Linked DNA regions of Homo sapiens. The protein of the gene in region 2 interacts with the protein of the main gene of each other region in a biochemical or structural test. Each region holds a gene or a part of one and is shown on either strand. Other genes may lie near its edges.

Region 1 (3,733 bases), on a different chromosome or scaffold from region 2:
CTGTTTCGTAAATCTAGGGATGGAGAGTTAGCCTAAACTCTCAGATTTAAGAAAACTGAAAACTTTAGTAATTGCCATGGAATGAATTGTGTCCCTCTAAATTCATCTGTTGAAGCCCTAATGCCCAATGTGACTGTATTTGGAGATAGGGTTTTTACGAAGTAATTAAGGTTAAATGAGGTCATAAGAGTGGGGTCCTGATCAAATAGGATTAGTGTCCTTATATGAAGAGACATCAGAGACATTGCTTTTTCTCCACCGTTGGAGGAAGGATATAGCAAGAAGGTGGCTGTCTGCAGGCCAGGAAGAGAGGCCTCACCTGAACCCAACCTTGATCTTGGACTCCCAGCCTCCAGAATTGTAAGAAAATTAATTTCTGTTGTTTAAGCCATGCTGTGTATGGTATTTTATTACTGCAGCCTAAGCTAAGATAGTCATGGCCTGACAAAATGCTCCAAAGGGAAAAAAGGAAAAGAAAAGCAGGAGAATGCTACCTACCTCGAGCATTTCCTCTCTTTGCTTCAGGGCCTCCTTGACTTCAGCAAACTGAAATTGCAGTATACTGTGGGCGTGTTTTTCCCTTTCAAATTCCTGTAAAGGAGAAAAACAGCACTAAAGCAGTGGAATCCCATGTTTCTGGCATGCCAGTTCAGGCTCTCACGATTTATAGTTTCTGTGGAACAAATCACCTGCTACTACATCATCACAATCTTCAAGGTCTTTTATTTTATTTTTTATTTATATATTTTTTTGAGATGGAGTCTTGCTCTGTTGTCCAGGCTGGAGTACAGTGGTGCGATCTCAGCTCACTGCAACCTCTGCCTCCTGGGTTCAAGCGATTCTGCTGCCTCAGCCTCCCAAGTAGCTGGGAATACAGGCGCCTGCCTCCATGCCCGGCTAATTTTTCTATTTTTGGTAGAGATCGGGTTTCACCATGTTGGCCAAACTGGTCTCAAACTCTTGACCTCAAGCGATCCACCTGCCCCAGCCTCCCAAAGTGTTGGGATTACAGGCATGAGCCACTGCACCTGGCCTTCAAGCCCTTTCAAACAACACAAACAGATTCCTCTGGACTTTATAGATGATGCCTGATGACTTACTGTCAAATTAACCTGAGGAGTTGATGCAATCAACAAGGATTTTCTGATTTCTTATCTACAGTGAAGCAAGAGCCGACGAAGGGCCCCCCCAGGGAGCCTGGTGTCTTCCACAGCACTGTGCTGAGAGCCTGGGTGAGGCTGCCCTGCAAGGACTTACCATAAAATGGCCCCTGCTGAAATATGACAAGGAAAACTCTTTGGGATAAAAAGGAGATAAACATGGCCTACTAAAGCATCTCTCATGAACAGCTGGTGGCCAGCTCTGTGCTTCAGGGCTGCCCCTTAAGAGACAAAAACAGGAGAGTTTGGGGGAGCAAATGGAGAGCCTGCAAAACCTAGCTGCTCCTCAGGCCTGGCCTCCCCACCTGAGGCTCAGCCCAGGAAGCTGGCAGCTCGGCTCTGCTGTGTTCCTGCCCAGTCACAGCAGCGCAATCCCTGGTGACGGCCTGAGACCCAACTCACTTTGCTGACAGCTTACAGGCCTGCAGGACGCTCCTTCCCTAGACCTGTCAGGCGGGTGATCTGAGATGGGATCTGGCCTGAGCTTCTGCTCACCCTGGCACTTCTGTTCGCCCACTTCCTTTAGCTTGGGGGTGGCTGGTGCCCTCCTGGCTATGACAAGGGCCCTCCTGTGGGGCTTTGCATGGCCCCTGTGTCCATCTCGGGACAGCATTCTAGCACCATCCAGCTTCTCTGGAGTGAGACTCGGGAGTTTTCAGTCCACTGAATGATGCCTAATGACAGCATTCCAGGAGGAATGCATATGCATTACAGGCCCCCACCCGAAGGGGGGCTGGGCTGTGCTCTCCACTCCTCCGTTCCCACATGACATCAGTCTTGTGAAAAGCTCCCCTCTTGCAGAGTTCAGCTATAAGGAACTTTGTGCGTAAAATGTTCTTCAGCTTCCAACTCAATTCTATAGCAGTCGAAGAAGCAGGCCTGAAGGTTGTCAAGGGTACCTTGGTTTTAACCCTTTGGATTTAGAGGATAATAGCCAGTTAAAAACAACAACAACAACGACACTCACACATTACATTTTCTGTTTTTCTCAGAATCTCTGAAAAATTGGACAATTCCTAAAAGTATGAAAAAAGTATTCCTTGCTTTCTATCTAAAGAACATCCAAGCCCAGCCTTCGTGGAATCAGTCCGCTGTCATTACTTATCTTAACACATGACTCATGCTTGAGACTCTCAATAGAAATTATATCTGATCTCAGCTATTAACAAACTAGTTCCAGTGGTTCCTAATGAAAGCTCAGATAAGACTATCTCTCTCTCTGAGCTTGGTGATATATTTAATTCTTAAGTAGAGTAACTGTGTCTTTTCCCAATCAGCAGAAAATAATATAATTTTCTTAAAATCTTTGATACTCATAACTATTTCCCTATGGTGTTGAGAGAGAACAAAATAAAAATCAGAAAATACATATGAATAGGAAAATCTTGAAGCATCTGATCGCACCTTATCTGAGCATGGTGGCTCTTTCATAGGTATGTTTTTTCATGGTTTTGCTTTTAGCTTAGATGTTCTCCTAGAAAAACTGTCTCCAGTTTACATGTTGAAATTATACGTATCAATATTTCAAGTCACTTGGCAAAGAGTATGGTACTTTTATTCTCAGATGTTTGGATTTCCTGGATAAGCGGAGAGCCATTGTTTAAAAATATAAAAATACATAATGTAAATTATACATTATATATACATACATACACACGATATATCCACACATACATACATACATACACACACACACACACACACCCTACCATTCCCTTTTTTTTTTTTTTTTTTTGAGACAGTGTCTTCTCTGTTGCCCAAGCTGGAGTGCAGTGGTGTCAACACAGCTCACTGCAGCCTCAACCTTCCAGGCTCAAGTGATCCTCCCACCTCAGCTTCCCAAGTAGCTGGGACTACAGCCATGTACCACCTGGCTAATTGTTTTAATTCTTTTTAGAAATGATGTCTCGCCATGTTGCCCAGGCTGGTCTCGAACTCTTGGGCTCAAGTAATCCTCCCACCTTGGCCTCCCAAAGTACCAGAATTACAGGCATGGGCCACTGCACGCAGCCTATTGTTAACATTCTGTATCATACTAATGCTTACTTTGTTTTTCTCTTCGTACTGCCGCCTAGATTCAGCCAGCTGTTCTTCAAGCTCCAGCAACATATCTTTTAGGGTATCAACCTGGTACATGAAGTTTGTCTTTTCATTGTCTAGCTGAGCATTGGAAACCATAGCCTTCTTATATTTCTCTTCAACTTCTGCTAGAGAGTCCTGTGGAAAGCAGGTCATATTTTTGAAATTGCAATAAAAAAATCAAAACAAAGAATCATTCAGTATTCTGTTAAAAAAAAACCCTCAGTCCTAAACTTAGACTATATTTCTTAGAGCAAATGGATCAGAAGAAGAAACACATGGCAATTTCAAATGCATGGAAATCCCCCTTTTCAATTTGGTCAAATTCTCATTGCTCAGAAAATTCACTATTAAAAGCAATGGACACACTCATTAGAACAAACGAGATACCAGTATGGAAAGGGATGTGGTCACAGAGGCAGTAGAGTCTCTGGCCCCACTCAGTAGCTGGGGAATCCCCCCAGCACGGCGTCCTAGGGCTGGGTGTCAGGCTG
Region 2 (2,445 bases):
AACTTCCTCTTGAAATGGGACAGGAACTTGGGGTTCTCCTGCTGCTGCGTCATGCGTACCACCTGGGGATGTGGAAGTGTTAGGGGCAGCTCCCTGGACCCCCACCTGCCCCTCGGGAGCCTAACCTTCGCTGGGTCTGAGCCCCACCACACCCCTCCGCCTGGCCTCGGGCTCGCGGGGCTGCCAGGCACACCTCCAGCTTCCCAGGGAAGAGGCTCTCGAACTTCTTTTGCAGGCTGAAGGTGAAGGTGAGCCAGCCCATATTGGAGGCTTCACGGCCCTGCCAGAAGTACACGATGCACTGGAAGTCCTCCTCTGGCTGCTTCTCCTCTGCCTCAGCGGTTGCTTCCTCGCCTTCTTTGCCCTCGGCCTTCTCCTCCTTGTCTTCCTTCTTTTCCTCCTCCTCGTACTCCACAGGCACCCAGTACCTGCCGGGTTGGAAGGTTGTGAGCAGGGGCTCGAGCCCCCAGCACCAGGGGAGGGACTTGGGGAAGGGAGTGCTGAGGTGGTACCTGCAGAGGAAGACGTAGCAGTCCTGCGTGTAGAAGTGGCCAAACTCCTCTTCCGGCAGCCGCGCAAACTTCTTGCCCTCCAGCACGAAACCCTCCATGCCGTCTAGGTCTTCGTTCCACTCCTCCATCAGCTGCTCCGCCTGCAGGTGAGAGGGACCCGCCCCGCGGCAGGTCTGAGCGCGCTCTGCGCATAGGCCCCGCCCTCGGCCTGCCCCCCACCCCCCCCCCCGCGCCCCGGTCCCGGCCCTGCCCCCACCTCGGCCAGCGACATGGGCGGCTGCCGCGGCAGGAAAAGCGCAGTGAGGTCAGCCTTCATCTGGTCTTTCTTCTCGGCGTCGCGTTTCACCTTCCCGGAGAGACCCGGGCTCTGCAGCACGGCCTCCGCATTGCGTGTGTAGTCCACCGTCAACACATCGTCCCAATTCTTGAACTTGGCCTTGAACACCTGCCAGGGAGGCCATCAACTAACCATGAGGGGTGCGGCATGATTAGAGTTGGAGGAAGTAGCCCGAGGCTTGAGGCGGGACCCAAGGGAGATCTAGGGCGGGGCTTGGGAGGCGGGGCCTCGGACACGGAGGTAGGAATAGGAGGGGCAGCTTGCAGAGGGGGCGGGGCCTGGGCAGAGTCAGCAAAGAGGAGGTGGGTTTGGGCCCAGCTCTGTAGGGAGGTAGTGAAGCCACAGGGGTCAGGGCATGTCAGGGTGCGAAGGATCCTGGGGAGGGGCCTCCGAAGCTGCAAGCGCACCTGCGCCTCGGTGCCCTCGAGGCTGCGGCTGACCGTGGCATGGCGTGGCCGGTGCAGCATCCCGCACAGCTCCTGACCCAGCTTGAGGGCGGCAGCGCGCACCAGGCGCGGGGACTTGCGGCCGAGCCAGATGAACACGTCGGACCAACAGTCCAGAATGTACACGCAGCGCGTGTCCAGCAGACTCTGCAGCTGCGGACCGGGAGTCTGGAGGTCAAAGCCCAGCCAACGGGGAGGGATCTGGCCCCACGCCCTCCTCCTGCATCTCTTACCAGCCGCATTCTTGGCATCAGCTCCACCTTGGGACGCTGCTTATGTTCCACGGAGAGCTTGTAGTTGATCTGTGGCAGCTCCAGGTAGCCCAAGCCCAGGCCCACCTGGCAGGAAGGATGAGCATGGCAGGGAAGGGATCTGGAGACAGGAACCTCACCCACACAGCCCTCTGCTCTGGAACCAGCCCTGCCCTGCAGCGTGGCTCACTGACTGCTTCTGTTTCCCCCTCCCCTTCAAGGTCTTTTTAGGGATATCCTTTCAGAAGGGCTTTTAAATGGAGTTTTCCCTGCCTGCCCTCTCCAGGCCCTTCATGCCATTTCTAATTAACGTGTCCCTTTCCTGTTCACAAGAATCTAGATAATTGAGCCAAGGTTCCCAGCCCTGGCACTAGGTGCTTCTGTCTCCCCTACGGCCCCACCATCCTGGAAAGACTCCGTGAGGCTACTTCTCAAAAGCAGCCTCCAGACCTTTGCTCATACTGTTCCTTGTCCAGAAGGTGGCACCCTCTCCCCACCAAAGTCGAGATGGAGCCCAAAGCCAACTACATCGGTGTGTAGTCCATTCCCCCAGTCGGTGGGTGAACTTGGGAGGCCAAGGTGGGCCTCAGCAGCAGGGCTCACCTTGTACAGCTTGGGCTGCGGCGGCCAGAAGTCTTCAGGCACGTGCTTCTTGATCTCAGAGGGCTCCCCACCCAGTGCCTCCCAGAACTCTGGGAGCTCCTGGCCCTGCACCAGCAGTGTGATCTCAGCCTTCCCTTTCCGCTCATTCTTGTTAATTTTCTCTGCAAAGAGCCTGAGAGCAGGATGCAAAGTCATCAGCGAGGCTCACACCCCTTTCCTTCACACAAAAGACCCCACGGTGTCCTTGTACCTGGCCTTGGTGGTGCTGCTCAGTGTGGCCTGGGCCCCCCGCCATA
Region 3 (3,500 bases), on a different chromosome or scaffold from region 2:
CCCAGGCTGGAGTGCAGTGGTGCTATCTGGGCTCACTGCAAGCTCCGCCTCCCGGGTTCACGCCATTCTCCTGCCTCAGCCTCCCGAGTAGCTGGGACTACAGGCCCCACCAGCATGCCCAGCTAATTTTTTGTATTTTTAGTAGAGACAGGTTTCACCGTGTTGGCCAGGCTAGTCTTGAACTCCTGATCTCGTGATCCACCCGCCTCAGCCTCCCAAAGTGCTGGCATTACAGGTGTGAGCCACCGCGCCCGGCTTCACCTGACTTTTAAAGGCATCACTATTTCTTGAGAATTATAGGGTGTGAAGACTTATAATATTGAAATCCTTGGCTTTGATACTTCAGACTGTTTGAACCTTGTGTTGTGGTTTCTTCTTTACCTTCTCCTTTCTTTATAATACAACATTACTTCTGGGTAATAGCAGAAACAGCCATTATCCTTCTGTTGCATTCCAAAGTGCCTTTTGCATTTTAAGGTTGAGGGCTTTTTATTTGCTTTTTGTTTTAAGAGCTTGCTGGACAAACAGTCCAGCATTTTACATGCTATTATAAAATGTTTGACAGAATCAGATAATAAAATAAATGGAACTGTATTATTATATGCTGCCATTTTAACTAATACCTCAGCTATCTCGACTTCCATTACCTATCACATTATCTAGATTCTAGAATATGCTTAAGAATTAGGACAAAGGCAAAAGCCTATTCGTTCTAAACACTATAGCTTTTATTTTAAGCATGGGAAAATGCCTTTGGCCCTCGCTGAAAATTTATTCTTTTATGTATACTTGGGACAAGCATGGTTATCAGGTTTCTGAGACTGCAGTAAAAAGGAGACAGGTTACTCTGGGCAGGTATAGTGATAGCCCTGGTGGCTCAAAGAGAGGGAAGAGACAAGGAAAAAACCATAGAAAGCAATACATTAGTTCTGGGCCATTTAGTGGAGTAGCAAATAGCCCTTACGCCTTGGAAGGTCATGATGGTTATCAACTCATTAAAAATTATGTTTAGTATCTTCAGTTTGAAAAGGTAAAATAAAAAAATACTTTCCTGTTGTTGTTGTTGTTTTTTCGAGATGGACTCTCGCTCTGTCGCCCAGCCTGGAGTGCAGTGGCTTGATCTCGGATCACAACAATCTCCGCCTCCCGAATTCAAGCAATTCTCGTGCCTTTGGCCCTCGCTGAAAGCTGGGAGGCTGGGCACGGTGGCTCATGCCTGTAATCCCAGCACTTCGGGAGGCCGAGGTGGGTGGATCACCTGAGGTCAGGAGTTCGAGACCAGCCATGGTCAACATGGTGAAACCCTGTGTCTACCAAAACTACAAAAAATTAGCTGGGCATGGTGGCGGATGCCTGTAATCCCAGCTGCTGGGGAGGCTGAGGCAGGAGAATCGCTTGAGCCCGGGAGGCGGACGTTGCAGTGAGCCGAGATCACGCCATTACACTCCAGCCTGGGCAACAAGAGTGAAGTTCCATCTCAAGAAAAAAAAGAATTTGGAAAGTAGAGAAAATTTCAGAGAAAATAAATTACACATAATACATTAAAATCTATTCTGGTTTGTCTACAACTTCAGGTACAAAAAAATCTAGAGAGAGTTTCAGTTGGTGTTTTGATGTTTTCCAAGTCATTTAAAAAATTATTTACATATGCTATAGTATATTATACCCAATTACAAATGCGAAAACAGAGGTTTAAGGAAATGAAGTAATTTAAATTTATGGGCCTGGCATAGTGGCTCACACTTGTAATCTGAGCACTTCAGGAGGCCAAGGTAGGCAGATCACTTGAGGCCACGCATCTGAGACCAGCCTGGACAACATGGTGAAACCCAATCTCTACTAAAAATAAATTAGCCAAGTGTGTGGCGTGTGCCTGTAATCCTAGTTACTCGGGAGGCTGAGGCAGGAGAATCGCTTGAACCCAGGAGGTGGAGGTTGCAGTGAGCCGAGATTGCGCCACTGTACTCCAGCCTGGTTGACAATGAGACCCTGTTTTTAAATAAATAAATTTATTTTAAATAAATAAATAAATTGATGTTATTTCTGTTAAATAATAGCTGAGAAAATCTGCCTTAGACTGTAGAACTGTGGTGCAATGGCCACCAGCCTAATGTTGCCAGGTAAAATACAGGGTGCCTGAAAATTTGAATTTCAGATGAAAAACAAAGAATTTTTAGTATATGCATATCCCAAATATACCACAGGACAGACTTTTGTCCAGTCTTTTTTTTTTTTTTTTTTTTTACATGCCTGTGTACATGTATCTGTTTTGGGTGGGTAGGGAGGTTTTTTGTTCTGTAAAATTTGGATCATGTTCTCTTTTTGTTAAACAAGAGATCATGGGTATTGGCAATGCCAGATATTCTTTGGAAATAGCAGAAAATTCTTTCCAAATGGCTTGAAATTTCAGTGCCCAGAGGAATATAGTAATCTCAAAGTTATTGAGGGCAAACTTACCTCTCCAGAATAGCATTCCCTGAGGATCCCAGAGAGCCCAGATTCCACTTAGCTTTAAACTGTGGGATTTGTGTTCCTTTTTAGGCGGGTGCCACGTCTATGTGGGCTTCGTGCTGTGGGCTGCTGAATGAAGTCATGGGAACTGGAGCTGTCAGGGGCCAGCAGTCAGCATTTGCAGGAGCCACCGGTCCATTCAGATTTACACCAAACCCTGAGTTTTCCACCTACCCACCAGCAGCTACGGAAGGGCCCAACATAGTTTGTAAAGCCTGTGGGCTTTCATTTTCAGTCTTTAGAAAGAAGGTGAGTTGGATGAAATGTTACATAACAACACACATGGGTCAGCATTCTTGATTGTAGGTTATTTTGAATAGCTATTGAATTTTCATTTCTGTTTATAAAAATATCAAAAGCTTAGTTCCATTAGCCATTTTCCATCTAGAAAAATACTTAATTGGAGGGATTATATTACTGCTCAAGTTTTATAGACATTGTTTCTCATGTTCAGGCATCCTTTCTCCTGAACTTTGACCTGTTTGTATCATTTTATTTTCTATTATGTTTATTTCCAAAAGCAAGAAATTTGTTAGTCTGTAGTTTTGTTCACAAATGATTTACTGTAACTATGATTCAGATTCAAGTTTCAAAAAAGTATCCCGTACCTTAACTTTCAAATGAATAAATGAATGCAATAAATTAACTACTCTTTAGAGATTCAACATCAAATACTTAGCTAACAGTTATTTTCACTAAGATGGAAAGTCATTCAGAGACCCATCATATTGGTAGGCCTCCTTGCTCTCTTTGATCTTTAGTTTAGTCTTCTGAAATACTTAAGGAAAAAAAATGTTAGCTTGCAGGAACAATGCAGCGAGCAGAAACGACCACATCTTAGTGCCCTCTTTAAGCTTCTCTAGTGGCAAGGCTTTGATTGTGATTAGGCTGTGTAGTTTACAGATTACTGTATTAGTGGGTCCTGTATTTTCTTGGATTCACCTTGAGAGATCAGTTGCCTTTCTCTTTCCCTGTCAGTCTGTTATGCT

Evidence for each region.
Region 1: the proteins of FLII (region 2) and LRRFIP1 form a complex in vitro, tested with the Homo sapiens proteins (one study listed by IntAct).
Region 3: of the proteins of FLII (region 2) and RNF34, one has a biochemical effect on the other in vitro, tested with the Homo sapiens proteins (one study listed by BioGRID).

Annotation. Positions count from the first base shown.
Region 1 is NC_000002.12:237,752,953-237,756,685, reverse strand, and holds part of LRRFIP1 (leucine-rich repeat flightless-interacting protein 1), read right to left. Parts: intron 3,378-3,733; coding exon 3,207-3,377; intron 592-3,206; coding exon 499-591; intron 1-498.
Region 2 is NC_000017.11:18,246,401-18,248,845, forward strand, and holds part of FLII (protein flightless-1 homolog), read right to left. Parts: coding exon 2,400-2,445; intron 2,322-2,399; coding exon 2,150-2,321; intron 1,634-2,149; coding exon 1,529-1,633; intron 1,449-1,528; coding exon 1,257-1,448; intron 958-1,256; coding exon 769-957; intron 653-768; coding exon 513-652; intron 429-512; coding exon 194-428; intron 63-193; coding exon 1-62. UniProt on the Homo sapiens protein: Is a regulator of actin polymerization, required for proper myofibril organization and regulation of the length of sarcomeric thin filaments. It also plays a role in the assembly of cardiomyocyte cell adhesion complexes.
Region 3 is NC_000012.12:121,413,618-121,417,117, forward strand, and holds part of RNF34 (E3 ubiquitin-protein ligase RNF34), read left to right. Parts: intron 1-2,541; coding exon 2,542-2,760; intron 2,761-3,500. UniProt on the Homo sapiens protein: E3 ubiquitin-protein ligase that regulates several biological processes through the ubiquitin-mediated proteasomal degradation of various target proteins.